3 linked regions of the Homo sapiens genome follow. The protein of the gene in region 1 interacts with the protein of each later gene in a pairwise test. Each region holds a gene or a part of one and is shown in the gene's direction. Other genes may lie near its edges.

The links. The genes of interacting proteins can lie anywhere in the genome.
Region 2: the proteins of STYX (region 1) and INSRR interact in a two-hybrid assay, tested with the Homo sapiens proteins (one study listed by BioGRID and IntAct).
Region 3: the proteins of STYX (region 1) and MUSK interact in a two-hybrid assay, tested with the Homo sapiens proteins (one study listed by BioGRID and IntAct).

The regions. Positions count from the first base shown.
Region 1 is NC_000014.9:52,747,070-52,754,235, forward strand, and holds part of STYX (serine/threonine/tyrosine-interacting protein), read left to right. Parts: intron 1-3,613; coding exon 3,614-3,711; intron 3,712-7,166. UniProt on the Homo sapiens protein: Catalytically inactive phosphatase. Acts as a nuclear anchor for MAPK1/MAPK3 (ERK1/ERK2). Modulates cell-fate decisions and cell migration by spatiotemporal regulation of MAPK1/MAPK3 (ERK1/ERK2).
Region 2 is NC_000001.11:156,839,563-156,842,117, reverse strand, and holds the end of INSRR (insulin receptor-related protein precursor), read left to right. Parts: coding exon 1-6; coding exon of another isoform or gene 7-37; intron 38-323; coding exon 324-453; intron 454-589; coding exon 590-724; intron 725-1,013; coding exon 1,014-1,245; 3' UTR 1,246-2,055; downstream 2,056-2,555. UniProt on the Homo sapiens protein: Receptor with tyrosine-protein kinase activity. Functions as a pH sensing receptor which is activated by increased extracellular pH. Activates an intracellular signaling pathway that involves IRS1 and AKT1/PKB.
Region 3 is NC_000009.12:110,692,791-110,699,790, forward strand, and holds part of MUSK (muscle, skeletal receptor tyrosine-protein kinase isoform 1 precursor), read left to right. Parts: intron 1-2,612; coding exon 2,613-2,740; intron 2,741-4,534; coding exon 4,535-4,676; intron 4,677-7,000.

The DNA.
Region 1 (7,166 bases):
GCAAAACAAACAAATCCAAACTCTGAAATATTTCTGGTCCCTGGCATTTTAAATAAGGGATATTCAATCCGTATAGATATTCTACATAGTCAAACTTTAATGGACTTACTCAGTTGCAGTTAAAATAGGTAGATCTCATTTTAATAAATATAGCAATGTTCTTGCCACTTCTAAAAGATTCAATGCTACTAATTCTCTTTGAGTTACAACGTGGAACATATCATAGATGTCTTTCCCCAATACTTTGCCTATTCAGAAGTCAGTATACTTAAATTGTGTTTGATATATCCATAATTTAATTTGATGTTCTTAGGAATTTAACCGGTTTTAAAAGGTCATTGATTTTGAAACTGGAAGATTTTTTTGACAGTTGAGACATGGCTAAGAGTAAACCTGGTCATCTTGATGATTTTTGCTTAGTTGGAAAGATAGGGAGTTAGTAAAAATAAGTACTAGGGAAAGGATAGGGCAGGTAACTATAGACATAGCCGTAATTTATTTTGTAAAAGACAGATGTAAACAAGGTTATTGTCCATATAATTTGCTATTCACCAAGTACTAGTCTTCCAGATGGTTTTAGATAATTTACATTTTTGAAATTCCCACTGTACTTTATAAATATACATACAGTATTTATCACATTAAATTAAAGTATTTGTTTAAAGGTCTATCTCCTCAATGGGAGGCTGAGGCAGGCGGATTACATGAGGCCAGGAGTTCGAGACCAGCCTGGCCAACATGGCAAAACCCCGTCTCTACTAAAAATACAAAAATTAGCTGGTTATGGTGGTACACACCTGTAATCCCAGCTACTCGCGAGGCTGAGGCGCGAGAATTGCTTGAATCTGGGAGGTAGAAGTTGCAGTGAGCCAACATGGCACCACTGTACTCCAGCCTGGTTGACGGAGTGAGACTTTGTCTCAAAATGAAACAAAAACACGCACAAAAAAAGGTCTAGTTCTTCAAAACTTCTTTTCTTGAAATGTCACCATGGTCTTATTAGACAGGAAAAGCCTCTGTGGCAGTTTATTTCCCACCCTAGGTAACCATAATATAGCCCATATTTCTTTTCATACCATTATCTAAAAACAACAACAAAAAATAATAATGGAGATAAACCTAAATGGATAAACTCCTTTTTAAACACTCATTTACTGTTATTATTTTGTGGGAGAGGAGTGGGGTCTTGCTCTGTTACCCAGGCTGGAGTACAGTGGCGCGCTCTCATAGCTCACTGTAACCTCAAACTCCTGGGCTCAAGCTGTCTTCCCACCTTAGTCTCCCAAGTAGCCAGGACTACGGGCACACACCACCATGCCTGGCTTAATTCTCAAAGTTTTTGTAGAGATGGAGTCTGGCTATGCTGGCCACATTTACTTAAGTATATCTTTTTATTAAATTCAAATACAGTTTAAATAAAAGGGACAAATTTAGGGCCTTTGTAATTAGTAAACGGTTTGTTTTTGTAAAGTTTTTCTACTGTTTTTAAATGTGAGGTAAGGTCATAATTTGCTTCATATTAGGTTGGTGCAAAAGTAATTGCAGATCTGCCTCTGAAAAGTACAAAATCTATTCGCTGTTACGTTAGGGCTCTATTTTGATAGTTTATTTTTATTTAGTAGTAGTCTATTGGGCCTTCAAAACTTGTTTAAGCATATTTATACATAATTATGTGCATCGTCTTGTGCTTTCTCACATTCATAAAGTAGATAGGAAAACTCCATAGGCATCAAGTGTAAACGAAGGACTTAATGTTGAATTTGTTGTGGAAATTGGCACAAATCTCAATATAGAACATTGGTTAATTATTAATCTTACCAAATGCTTATCTCACTTTCCCTAACTCAAGTTATACTCAAGAAATACAAAGATAATTGAATTCTAATCTATGCTGACATAAAACTTGCTGCAGAAATTAACACTTAAAACTTGCAAATTATATTGTCTTAGCCCAGGCTGCTCAAACAAAATACCATAGACAGGGTGGCTTAAACAACAGACGATTATTTGAGTTCTGGAGGCTGGCAAGTCCACAGTCATGGTCCGGCTCTGGTGAGGACCCTCTTGCTGGCTCGCAGATCCCTCCCTTCTTGCTGTATCCTCACACGGCCAAGAGAACGAGTTCTTGCCTCTTCTTACAAGGGTACAATCCTGTCATGGAGGTTTCTACCCTCATGACCTCAATCTAAAACTGATTATCTTCCAGAGACTCCACCATCACATCTTGGGGGTAAGGATTTCAACATAAGAATTTGAGGTGATGCAAACATTTAGTTCATAACACATATAAATTATTTTTTTTTACTTTGCTCATGAATTATTAGTGCTACTGTTTTGTACTATTTAAAATGCAGAAAATGGGAATTAAATATATAGGATTTAAAACAATGTGTCAAGAAATTCAAGGTTATCTGATTCTCATGCCATCGTGACTTGTTAGTTCATTTATTGAACAGGTAATTATTGAACAACTTAACTAGTTATACATACTTGATACTTAAGTGAATTGTATTATACATTTTACACATACTATGTATCAGTGAACAAATAAAAATCTTTTCTGTCATGGAACTTAATGCTCTAGGTAATAAAATAACATCTATAAACTCACTTAAACTTATCACTAGCAAATGAAAACTTATTATCTGGTAATTTCTAGAATTGTCATGTTAAATTGCTTTAAGTATGGAGCCAAAAGCACTACAGGTTGAGTATCCCTAATCTGAAAAATCTGAAATGCTCCAAAGTGAAACTTTTTGAGTGTCAGCATGACAGCACAAGTGAATTCCACACCTGACCCCATGTAATGGGTCACTGTCAAAATTTTGTTTCATGCACCAAATGACTGTATGAAATTACGTTCAGAGTATATATGGTGTGTGTGAAACATAAATGAATTTTGTGTTTAAACTTGGATACCATCCCCAAGACATCTGAGTATGTATATGCAAATATTTCAAAATCTGAAATCTGAAACACTTCTGGTCCTACCTTGGGACCAGCATTTTAGATAAGGGATACTCAACCTGTATTGAATATAATAAGATGTCATTGAAGTTGCCATTTTTAACTTCAGGAAAATTTTTAAATGGTAAAAGGTTAATTAGATTCTGTGAAGTATGTAAATTAATTCTGACTCTTAAAGTATACTGGGAGAGGCAAGGAGTTGTCTAGAGATTTGGGTTCCAGTACTGCTGTTAACTAGGTCGGTGATGTCCAAGTATTTGGTAATGTAACTGTTTTATGTCTTAGTGGTTCTCTCTAAACAATAAAGATTGCAGTCAATATATATTAACTACCATTTATTAAACACTTGCTGTGTGTCCCAGGTGCTATGCCAAACATCTTACATAAAGGTTCCATCAAGCTCTAAAATTGTAGGTATGAAATATCCCTGTTAACCTTTTGAGGACATTAATGTATTAATCTTGAATCATTGAAATATCTTGCTGCCCACTTCAGGTATATTATAAAATTAGCTTTAATTCCCTGGACTTAAGCAGAGATGTGGGTTCTGTGTATTTTCAAACATCTGTGTTATATAGTAAGATGATGTTTGATATTTTAAAATATTTATCTTCCCTGTCCTCCCCCTGCTTTTTTTTTTATACAGCTACCTGTACTACAGAAACATGGAATAACCCATATAATATGCATACGACAAAATATTGAAGCAAACTTTATTAAACCAAACTTTCAGCAGTTATTTAGGTAAGAATTATTGCTATGATTTGTAAAACACTTAATGAAGTTTCATTTCAGGTTTTGTACCATCAGTTGTTTCTGTACATATCTAGTTTGTAAAAATGGGTCATATAGTACATAGTTTTTTAAAATAAATTTTACTTAAAATACTTAAATAAATTATGCCCATAATGCAGAATTCTAAAGGTTCAAAAGAGTGTATATTGTCAAGAAGTTTCTGGGAAAGTAAAAATAAAAAAGAATTTAAAAATAATGTATACTGAAAAATAGGTTTTAGTGTACATTATTTTATCTCTTGAGGGATAAAGGAATTGAGTATCTAGGGGATAGGTTTAGGGAAACAGCATCTACTGTTACCTCTTTATTGGGTAGTTTTTGAGTGTTAGGTTAAATTTATGAGCATAGTCTTATAGATAAATTTTTTTTTACATTGGCTTTCTTTTTTACTTTATATTTTTTGGAGATTGGTTTATATCGGTATGTATATCAAACTGCTTATTCTTTTTAAGTTGCATTGTAATCCATTGTATGGCTATACTAAAATTTATTCAATTAGTCTGTTAGATATTTAGATTGTTTCTGGCCTTGTACTAATATGTATAGCATATAGTGACTATCATTGTACATATTACTCAATTTATATGTGAGCATATTGATAGGGCTTATTTGCAGAATTGCTGGATATAAGAGTATGAACATTTTAAATTTTGATAGATGTTGCAGATTGTTTTCCAGTGCGTTGTATCAGTGTACATTCCCATTATCAAGTATGTGAGAGTGACTCTTCCCTTAGTATCTCTCCAAGACGGAATTGTGAAACATTTTTAATTTCTCAAAGTCTAATGGAGTAAAAATGGTATCTCATTTGATGTTCTTATTTATCTTGTAAGTTCAGTTGAGCATGTAATGGTTTTTAATGTTCTTTATTTTAACTTCATTTTTAAAATAGAGTATATTACGCATGGTACAAAAGTGAAAGGATATGTAAACATATATAATGAAAGTAACTCTACTTTTTCTCTTAACCCAAGCCACCTTGCTCCTATCCTGGGAGGCAGCTTCTTCCTTCAATATCTATGTAAAAGTATATATGTTAAAAATATTTTAGGCCAGCACGGTGGCTCACGCCTGTAATCCCAGCATTTTGGGAGGCCGAGGTGGGCAGATCACCTGAGGTCAGGAGTTCGAGACCAGCCTGGCCAACATGGCAAAACCCCATCTCTACTAAAACAAAAATTACCTGAGCGTGGTGGCACATGCCTGTAATCCCAGCAGCTCAGGAGACTGAGGCAGGAGAATTGCTTGAACCCAGAAGGCAGAGGTTACAGTGAGCCGAGATCACACCACTGCACTCCAGCCTGGGCAACAGAGCAAGACACCGTCTCAAAAACAAAACAAAACAAAACAAAAAAAAAACAGCGCTGTGGCTTACACCTATAATCCCAGTACTTTGGGAGGCTGAGGAGGGTGGATCACGAGGTCGAGATTGAGACTGTCCTGGCCAACACAGTGAGACCCCGTCTCTACTAAAAATACAAAAATTATCTGGGCGTGGTGGCACATGCCTGTAGTCCCAGCTACTCAGGAGGCTGAGGCAGGAGAATCACTTGAACCTGGGAGGCAGAGGTTTCAGTGAGCCAAGATTGCCCCACTGCACTCCAGCCTGGCGACAGAGCAAGACTCTGTCTCAAAAATAAAAAAAAAAATTTAATGCTCTGCTTTATTTTTACAATGAAACCAATCTATAAATATCTGTAAATACAAGATACATACTCTAAAATACATTGTGTGAACATATAATAGAATACTATGTAACCATGAAAAAGAATGAAATATATGTATGTGTTTGGATTTGGGATGATCTCCAAGATAATGCATTACATGAATAAAGCAGGGTGTGGAACAATGTATATATTTGCAATGTGTTGAGTAAATATATATATACTACATTCCATATATTTATTCTTAATATATGCATAGAAAATTTCTGGACCAAGAGGCTAGAAACTTCATAGTGATTGCTTCTAAGAAGGAAAATTCAGGGCCTGTGATGGTAGAGGGACGTATTTTTCTTTCGTTTTTAATTTTGTTTTTTTTTGTTGTTGTTGTTTTTTTTTTTTTTTTGAGATGGAGTCTCACTCTGTCACCCAGGCTGGAGTGCAGTGGTGTGATCTTGGCTCACTGCAACCTCTGCCTCCTGGGTTCAAGCGATTCTCCTGCCTCAGCCTCCTGAGTAGCTGGGATTACAGGCATGTGCCACCACACCCAGCTAATTTTTTTTTTTTTTTTTTTTTTGGACAGAGTTTCGCTCTGTTGCCCAGGCTGGAGTGCAGTGGCATGATCTCGGCTCACTGCATCCTCCGCCTCCCAGGTTTAAGCAATTCTCTGCGTCAGCCTTCTAAGTAGCTGAGATTACAGGTGCCCACCACCACTCCCAGATAATTTTTTTTGTATTTTTAGTAGAGACGGGGTTTCAGCATCTTGGCCAGGCTGATCTTGAACTCCTGACCTCTTGATCCACCTGCCTCAGCCTCCCAAAGCACTGGGATTACAGGTGTGAGCCACCGCACCTGGCCTAATTTTTGTATTTTTAGTACAGACGGGGTTTCACCATGTTGGCCAGGCTGGTCTCGAACTCCTGACCTCGTGATCTGCCCACCTCGGCCTCCCAAAGCACTGGGATTTACAGGCGTAAGCCACTACGCTCAGCCGAGGGACATATTTTTCATGGTACCCTTGATATCCATGGGGGATTGCCTCCAGGAACCCCCATGAATAACAAAATCCTCAGATGCTCAAGTCCCTTATATAAACTGGTGTAATATTTGCATATAACCTGTGCACATTCTCTCATATACATTAAATCATCTCTAGATTACTTCTAATACTTAGTACAGTGTAAGTGCTGTGTGAATAGTATTGGATTTTATTTTTATTATTTTTAGTGTTGTATTTTACCTTATTTTTTGTTAATGTTTTTTATTGTTGTCGGTTGAATCCACAGGTATGAAATTCTTGGATATGGAGGGCTGACTCTTTACTTTTGTAGTGTTTTTTTTTTACACCATATTTAGTTTATTAAAACTAGTTATTAAAAAGGAATATCCCAAAACACTGATTTTTTTTTTTTTTTTTTTTTTTTTTTGAGACAGAGTCTCGCTCTGTCATCCAGGCTAGAATGCAGGGCTCACTGCAACCTCTGCCTCCCAAGTTCAGGCAATTCTTCTGCCTCAGCCTCCTGAGTAGCAGAGATTACAGGCATGTGCCACCACGCCTGGCTAATTTTTGTATTTTTAGTAGAGACGGGGTTTCACCATGTTGGTCAGGCTGGTCTCAAACTCCTGACCTCGTGATCCGCCTGCCTTGGCCTCCCACAGTGCTGGGATTACAGGCGTGAGCCACTGCGCCCGGCCTGAATTTTTTATAATTATGAAAGAAATACTTTTTTTTTTTTCAAAGAT
Region 2 (2,555 bases), on another chromosome or scaffold:
TCGGGGGTACAGAGGGTGCCAGGCAGATGAGGGCGGCCTGAAAAGTAGAGAGACTCCCTTAAGCTAGGCATCAGGAGACCCACAGCCCTGGTCCTGACAGCCTGTGAGACCCTTGGCAAGTCACCCCCACCCTGTATCTTAGTCTCTTGTCCAAGGGCAGAGGGGTTTGGATGGGATGAGTTCTGAGGTCCATTGAGCCCCTACTTTCCAGGGTTCTTGGTGACTCTGGAGGATGAGAAGATTGGGAGAGGTATCCCAGGGGCAGGAGCTAGTGCGTGGCTCTTATGCCCCACACCTCCTCCACCCTCACCCTCACTTTCCAGACTTCGGGATGACTCGGGACGTGTATGAGACAGACTATTACCGCAAGGGTGGGAAGGGGCTGCTGCCCGTGCGCTGGATGGCCCCCGAGTCCCTCAAAGATGGGATCTTCACCACCCACTCGGATGTCTGGTGGGGCCGAGCTGGAGCACAGGGCTCCAGGGATGTGGAGGCGGGATCTGGGGAGGGGCCTGGAACACCCCCATCCCTTGGAATGCACTGAGTAGCACGAAGGGTGCTGGGCTCAGGAGCTCCTGCATGCCCCCAGGTCCTTTGGCGTGGTACTCTGGGAGATTGTGACCCTGGCAGAACAACCCTACCAGGGCCTGTCCAATGAGCAGGTGCTGAAGTTCGTCATGGATGGCGGGGTCCTGGAGGAGCTGGAGGGCTGTCCCCTTCAGCTGTGAGTCACCTCCCCTGCCCCTTCCTCATTGTTGATCTACCTACAACCCTCCCCCACCCGGCCCCATGATTCTGGCTCACCTCCTCTGATGCTTTGACATCCACTGACCCTCAGCTATGAGCGCCACCCCCCTATCCCAAACCCCCAAGACTCCCATTTAATCCCTTCTCACCCTCCCAGGCATAATGGCCCACGATCCCCACTCCCACCAACTGACCCTCAGTGCAGGAGGCTGAGAGCGTGGCAGGGGCTCCCGGATGCCTCTGACCCTGCTCCCCACACCCACCAGGCAGGAGCTGATGAGCCGCTGCTGGCAGCCGAACCCACGCCTGCGCCCATCTTTCACACACATTCTGGACAGCATACAGGAGGAGCTGCGGCCCTCCTTCCGCCTCCTCTCCTTCTACTACAGCCCGGAATGCCGGGGGGCCCGGGGCTCCCTGCCTACCACCGATGCAGAGCCTGACTCCTCACCCACTCCAAGAGACTGCAGCCCTCAAAATGGGGGTCCAGGGCACTGAGGGGCACCTCATTCCCTGGCTGGCCTCCCATGGGGAGACAGGAAGGGACCCGACCTCTGTGGCTGAGACGCCTGAATGTTCACCCCCACCCCAACTCAGGGCAAGGGATGGCCGAGGGTGGGGCAGAGAACAGGAGCAGGGAAGGCTGTGGGGGTGGGCAGAGGGGTCTCACCATAGGAGTTTCTCAGACTCTGAGTCCCTCGGGGGAGAGCAAGCAGGGTCAAAGCCAGAGGAGTAGAGATCAGGTCAGGGAGAGATGTCCTGCCCTCAGAGGTAGGGACCCCACTCAGACTAGGAAGAGGGGGCCCGCCCACCCTAGAGGCCCTGCCCCTCAGTTTGGGGTCTCCTCTGGACAGGTAGGGCCAGCGACATGTTTGAAATCAGATGAGCAATCAGAAGCAGGCCTGGGGCGCTCTCCATGCATGTATGGGAGGGGGGTGGGGCTCCACATGACTGCCTTGCTTGCCACTGGTTTCACCTCCTCCCCTCAGCTCCACTGACCAGGTGGCATGGGGAGAACCCAGGGGCCTGGGGAGTGGTTCCCAGCCTGCCCGCCCTCACCTCCTCCTCTCCTTTTGCCCTGCCCAGGGCTCCCCAAGCTTGGTGCTCCTTCCTCCTTTTCTCCAGGGGCATCCCTTGGAGTACAGTCACCCTTTCTTCAGTCCCTCCCCTCAATGATTAGCCCTGGATGCTTAAGGCTTTCAGAGCCTCATCTTCCTCCCTCCCCTCACCCTCACCCAGCCCCGCCCCCACCCCTGCCTCTCATGGGAAGACTGGAGAAGGCACAATAAATGCTGAGGCCTGTTTGTACCCTGGTCCCAGGCAGCCCATTATCTCTCCATCTACATGGTGTTAACACTGGATGAACTTCCTTTCTCCCTCCTCTGGGACTCGAGGTGGTGACCCTAAGGCAGAGACACGGGATAAATACACTGCTGTCAAACACCACCTCCATGAGGACCCGAGCAGCCAGGGTTGCCATGGCAGTGAGGCAGGACAATCTTGCTATTATCTCCTGCTCAGGACCAGAAGTGGTTGAGCCCGGCAGGGAACCTTTGTGTCTAGCCTCCAAGCAGAACCAACCAGTCCCGGACACCTCATCTTAATTTCACCCCTTGTTATGTTCGTTATATCGGTCCACTGGGTAGGTATTTTCTGGAGTGTCATAGGACAGACTTTAAGTGGGCAGACATGGGGCAAGGGAGAGGCCCTGATGACATCACCTGTTCATGCCAGATGCCCCCACCCAAGCCAGGGAACACACAGCAGAGCAGGGTCTGTGTGTCTGGCACCCTGTGGTTATCCTGGGA
Region 3 (7,000 bases), on another chromosome or scaffold:
CACTAGTGCATCTTTTAAAAAGACATTTTCTTTTTTCCCCTGCATTACTTTTATTTCCTTCAGAAAAAAAAAAATTGATTTTGTTTGGGTTCCATCCTTTTATGTTTACAATTTTTCTCAAATTGATCTTTTATTTTTTGATCATAATAAATATACATGGAGTGTTCAGTTAATTAGGATAAAAAGCTGGTGGGAATAGCATGACTTTATGGAATACTGATTTGGTACTTACTGTGAGTAAGTAGGTGGGGATCTGCCTATATGCAGGCTTCCCTTCAGTATGCAGAGAAGTAAGAAATCAAATAAGGAAGTTGGAATGCTCTCATTTGCTAAATAATGAAGACTTCATTCTGAGGATGAAACACATTCAAGTATTTCCTTACTTTGTGACACTACCTTTCTTTTGAATATTTTTGCATATTCTCTCTGGCCCAATTGTTCTTGATTTGGGTTCTATACTAAATCCCCTTTTCTTTTCTTGCCTTCTTTTTTCCAACCTCTCCTTTGGAGATCTCATCCATTCATGTGGATATACACCGGTGTGGCCATTCCAATTGCTAAAATTTTGGAATGCTTCCATACTTCTTGGAAAGATCCGTTTTATAAGGCTCCCGAGATCCCCCAACCCCTATCACTACTCCAGCTCTCTTAAGCCCTCCCCCAAGAGCTCCCTCCCCTAAATTCCTAATGGTCCATCAGCTAAAGTCTCAATGCTGGCACAGCGGGATACTTCCAGCATCCTGCTTTAAGGTGACCAGTTCTGATTGGTCAGTACTTATGACTCCACCCTGAATCATGTTCCCTTACAGTGGGGATCCATGGCTATGCGTCAATACCCTAGTCATTCCTAGTTGACTTTACATTCAATTTCCCAAAAGGGAATTCCTCACCCCTCACCTAACAGATGACCAAGACATCAAGTCACTGAGAAGATAGGAGATTTTTGCTTTAAGCAAAGGTCTTTACCTAAGACATTATCTGTGCCTCAGCTTTACCATAGAGATCTTGTTCAGGGAACCTATGGAAGGCATAGATAACACTTTATTTGACTGTCATAGGAATATCAAGTGCTCAGCTAAGTTTTTCCCAGCAACTGTATGACAATACAACTCACAATTGAGGAACCTGGCCAGTACTGTATTTACATGTAGGTATTTACAGTTTATTAGAAGGAGAGTTGTATGCTATAGATAGCAGGCAAAGTAATAAAGTTGTTATTTTCCTATATTTTAAAGCCTTTCTTGTATTTTTGCTATAACACAGGGCCGCAGGAACTCTAAATGACAGTGAATGCTTAGATTAAAAACCAACAGGTCTCACGCCTGTAATCCCGGCACTTTGGGAGGCCGAGGCGGGCAGAACACGAGGTCAGGAGATCAAGATCATCCTGACAACAGGGTGAAACCCCGTCTCCACTAAAAATACAAAAAAAAAAAAAAAAAAAAATTAGCCGGGTGTGGTGGTGGGCGCCTGTAGTCCCAGCTACTCGGGAAGCTGAGGCAGGACAATGGCATGAACCCGGGAGGCGGAACTTGCAGTGGGCCGAGATCGCGCCACTGCACTCCAGCCTGGGCGACAGAGCGAGACTCCGTCTCAAAAAAAAAAAAAAAAAAAAACAAAAAAACAAAACCCAACAGGTCATGAAGGCTTTGCAAGTATCTCTTACCACCAACAACACCAAAGCCCCCATTCCTCTCCCTCACATTGAAGTAGAAGAAAACAAAGTCCATATTTCATGCGTTCCTTTGTCAAAATAACAAATTGGTTACGGCACATGTCCTGCAAGAAATAAAATGTGTCCATTGCTCAGTAGTCTCTCTTGCGAAGTCCCCCTCTGTATCTGTAACGTAAAATTCCTAAGGACATAAATGTAGTTTTAACTATTTTACGAATAGTACTAAAATAACTGGCATCCTGAACTTATCAATTCTTTTGTATATTAGATTTAATAACTTTCTTTGAAAGTTTCATATTTGAGAATAAAAATTAACTGGCATAAACTATTTCTTCTGAAAGATTAAAAGTGTTTGAACAGTAAATTACATGTTTGAGTCCCCCCAAATTGTATGACAGAATTTCTTCTGATTGTTAATATAATAATATCTGGTTTACTTTCTAGAGAATGAATGTATTTAATTAATAATCATAAAATTTAATAGTCAAATTAAGATGGAAGCTAAAGGGAAAATAGGTCATAATTTCTAACTAGGTAAGAATATAGTTATATCAAAATTTTCTTTTCAAATGTTTTATGTCTATCAGTATGAATTAAATAATGTTGAATTGCTATGGTGACAGTCTATGTTAATCAGCTTTTATTAACTATCTTTTAAAATGAAGAATGCTATGGTAACTTCACACTGTTAATATTTTTCATAAATTTGTGTTTTGCTAGTAAGATTCTAATAAAGCAGAGACAACCAAGTGTTTCTAAACTGATTTCTGTTTGAGATCTACTGAGGAAAACTGTCTTTGCATTTGGTGAATTTTGTAATGTAACATGCCTCAAATGATTCTCAAAACAGATGTTTAGAATTAAATTGAAAGTTAGAAACTCTAGGTTTAATAAAGCCATATTGCCTTATTTATTTTGAATTTTCATTTCTTTTTAGAACCTAAAATAACTCGTCCTCCCATAAATGTGAAAATAATAGAGGGATTAAAAGCAGTCCTACCATGTACTACAATGGGTAATCCCAAACCATCAGTGTCTTGGATAAAGGGAGACAGCCCTCTCAGGGTAAGTGGTTATGATGTTAAAACACATATATAAAATGTATTTTAAAATATAACATTTCTTTACACACTCAGTTACACACTTACAAACTTCTAGTATAAAGTAGTTTCCATGTACATTTTAACCAAATGTAAATATTTCTGTTTGCATATATGCAAACTGCATGGCATTTCATTTGGGTCTGGCTAGGGAAAAAAGAGATGGGAACCAATAATGTTAAAGATAGAAAAGGAGGCAATGAAAAAGCAAACCTGGAATCCTTTGTATTTGTTGGCTGGCTAAATCATTTATTTTTTTTTAATGTTGAATCTGAGACTTAGGGGATGAAAAAGAAAAACTAAAACCCAGGCTTTAGAACTGACAGTTTCTGGAAGGAGGGAGGGAGACAAGGTTCGGAAGAAAAGAAATGAGATCTCTGGAGAGAAGTTAGGCGAAAAGACTCAAGACTCATACACAAATACCTTGGCAAATCCCTCCTGAGTCATGAAGAGTAGTCACGCCTGTAATTCCAGCACTTCAGGATGCCAAGGCCTGAGGTCAGAAGTTCAAGACCAGCCTGGCCAACATGGCGAAATCCTGTCTCTACTAAAAATACAAAAATTAGCTGGGTGTGGTGGTGTGTGCCTATAATCCCAGCTACTCAGGAGGCTGAGGCAGGAGAATAACTTGAACCCGAGAGGCAGAGGTTGCAAGTGAGCCAAGATCTCACCACTGCACTCCAGCCTGGGCAACAGAATGAGACTCCATCTCAAAAAAAAAAAAAGTTATTATCCATATGCTTATTTTGTACTGCCTCTGTATCTTATCCCCACATTTATTGATAAATTATTATGAGGCATCATTATTGTCTTTCCATCTTTATATCACCTAAAAGATTACAGACTATGTTTTTCATTTAACAATGCATAGTATATTTTAAGAGGAATACAAAGGTGTCACTTTATGTCAATTAACTGAACTAAGGTATAAAATTGCTCAGCTTTGCTTTATTTAAAATAAAATAAATATTGCTAATTTTTAATGATTAATTATCTGGCTTTCCTCTTGTTATAAATCTTGGTGCATTTCCTACAATGACAAACAAGGGTGGTTGTACTTATGTTACTGAATTTAGGGTTCAAAACAGAAAAGACAGATGTAATATTTAAACTCCAAAGAGTAATTTTAATATTATGTGTGAAATTTTCTAGTATTTCAAAGGACATGTACTCTTCTAAAGATACCATCTAGGGTGCAAGGTAAACCTGATAGTTAAAAGCAATGTGTTTATTTATTCATATTTCAATAGCTTTTGGGGTACTAGTGGTTTTTGGTTGCAAGGATGAACTGTATAGTGGCCAAGTCTGAGATTTTAGCGTGCCTATTACCTGAGTGCTGTACATTATACCCAGTATATAGTTTTGTATGTCTCACCACCCCACTCTGCAACATTTCCCCCTTCTAAAAGCAATGCTTTTAATCAGATTTAGCTGTGACTTTGGGGAAGCAAAATAAGCCCATATACATATATATATTATACATATACATATTATATATATAATATATATATACACACACTCATGGGATGAAAGAAAATAAAAATAAACTATACCTCATAGGACCCTGGTGAAGATTAATTTAGGTACTCTTGCACTATTTCATTTAATATTGTATGTTTTACATAATAAGTGGCCAATAAAGGTCAAAGCGATATCTTTGATGATGATAATAGTGATGACAATAAGTTGATGATATTTGGCAAATGTATCCTTGATAGACCCATAAACATTTTTGAATTCACGTCCCTATCTCTGGCAGGAAAATTCCCGAATTGCAGTTCTTGAATCTGGGAGCTTGAGGATTCATAACGTACAAAAGGAAGATGCAGGACAGTATCGATGTGTGGCAAAAAACAGCCTCGGGACAGCATATTCCAAAGTGGTGAAGCTGGAAGTTGAGGGTAAGGAGCTGCATTTCTTCCCCTGACTGTGTGACCAGGGGCCTCACTGTCTACTGTGAAGGCTGCACCTGGGCTTGGGAGAGAAGAGATGTGGGCAGCCCACTTCCCTCAGTTGTTCCAGATATTAGGCCATAAGTTCAAGCGTATGATAACAGAAAAGGAAAACTGAAAAAAGAAAGAAATTTTCACTAGTATAAAAGGTCATATTCCATTGATTACTCACAATCACTGGTAATTTTTACCAAAACAGACTAAATTTACTGTAACAGTAAAATAATAGAAACCCATTTTAGAATGCCTTCCTGGTTTGGACAATTCTTCCCTCATTTAAAGACTTGGGCATAATAATTTTAATCTTTTTAATCATACAGAACAACTTTAAAAAGATGTGATAAGGAGGAAAAAGTAGCTATTTTCAGATAGTGTTCTATCACAAAGCTTGAAAAAAAAAACATTAACTCAAATCGTAAAGCCAAAAATAATCCCAGTTCTGTGAGTTATGTTATCAAAATCGTTTTTCTTTTCTTTCTGAAAATATTTTTTAATCAGCTAATTCAATAACTTGGTGTGAAAGGTCTTCACTGAGAAATCAGAATCCAAATAGGTCTAGGTGTTCTATTTGCTTGTTAGTCGGGTCCTTCTTGACCTAAAATTGCACCACATTTTGCTTAAAAAGAACTATCAGCACACCTCTATTAGGCGAATAAACTGAGTACAAACCCTTCCTAGCTCTTCCTGTTGTATGCCAGAGAATTAACATTTTTGGCTCCTAGCTTTCTCACCTGTTAAGTGGGGTTTGCTCTATTTAATGAAGTTAGGTGTTGATAGTGTTTAGCAGAGCATCTGGTCCTTTGTGCACCCTCAATAAATGTTGGCTATAAGAATTATCATCTATTTTTCTGCTTTTCTCTTATCTGATTGATAAGTGTTAGAGTATCACATACTGGCACAAATTACAGTTCAATCAGGAAAAGACTTGAAGAGTTCTCCATATTTTACTTTGATTCTGTCCTACTTTCCTTAGGCCAAAATCTATCTTTTTCTGCATATTTCCTTCTCATTCATATAGTTTTCTATTAACTCCTTTAAGATTATTTTTATTTCCTTGATGGACATTCCTGTCACAGCTTTAATGATCTCGTTTCCCACGTTTGCCTCCAATTGAGGTAACATCTTTATTATGTCATTGTACCAATTGCTCATAAAATTTTCATTAATTCCTCATGGAAAATAATGAGGTTGGTGGGAATAGTGGCTGTCAGAATATAAAAATACATTTTCATCAAGTTGCTGTAATTTAATATCTTCTAAATAATCAGTGCTATTTGAAGCTCCGTATTCAACAACCAGTTGATATGATTTATTCAGTAAAAACTAAATAAACCTACAAACCCACCCAGACACACATTCAGACTCACTGAATATCTGTCTGCCTAGATCCAGTGTTTTCTTGTTCTGTCTAAGGAATGATGCAGAATTAATGCTATCCATTTGTATAAAATATCACAAAGAGTTTTTCTCTTTAAGATATTAAAAATAAGCTTTCTGTATTATAATATTTAATACTGATCATTTAGGTCACTAGCTTCATAGATATTAAAACAACTTGCTTTACCTTTGACCTAGAGAAAATTATCACCGAACTCCATTAGTTGGAGTTATTATACAGTTTGGTTTTGTGTTACCATTTAATTTTGTATCATGCCTGTCAGTAACATTGAATACTGCCTCTTTTCTCGTAACCTTTAAATGGTCATGCTTAGTGCTTTAAAAGTTAATATATGCTAGAGATAGTATTAAATTTGCTAGAACTGAGAGCTCATAATATCATTTAAAGTTATTCTAACTGTAGGTAAGATGATTTTCGCACACATTTAGCACACATGCCTATTTCTACCCTCATCTTAGTCCCTATTAAAATAGCCAAAATATGTGACATGCTTAGCACAATTGCTGGTACATAATAAGCATTTAATAAATGGAATCTACTATACTTATTATGATTAAAACATAAAATTGTAACAAATTTGCTTTGGCTCTGGAAGCTCTGAAAGGTTGACTTCCACTTGAATAAATAGTTGAGGTATTTTCATAAGATATAATGTAGACGTGACCTATTTAGAGGTAAGGCTAACTCAACCTACAACTCAGAACAAGTTTTTTTTTAAAAAAAAGCAACTGAGAAATGACTGGAAAAACCTCAAAAGTACATGCAGATGCCTGCTAGTTTGGCAATGATGAGGACTGAAGATGATGAGGCAGGGCCATCGTCAGTTGGGGCAGACGAGCATATGTATGTATCAAGTCGTAACTCTGCAAATTAG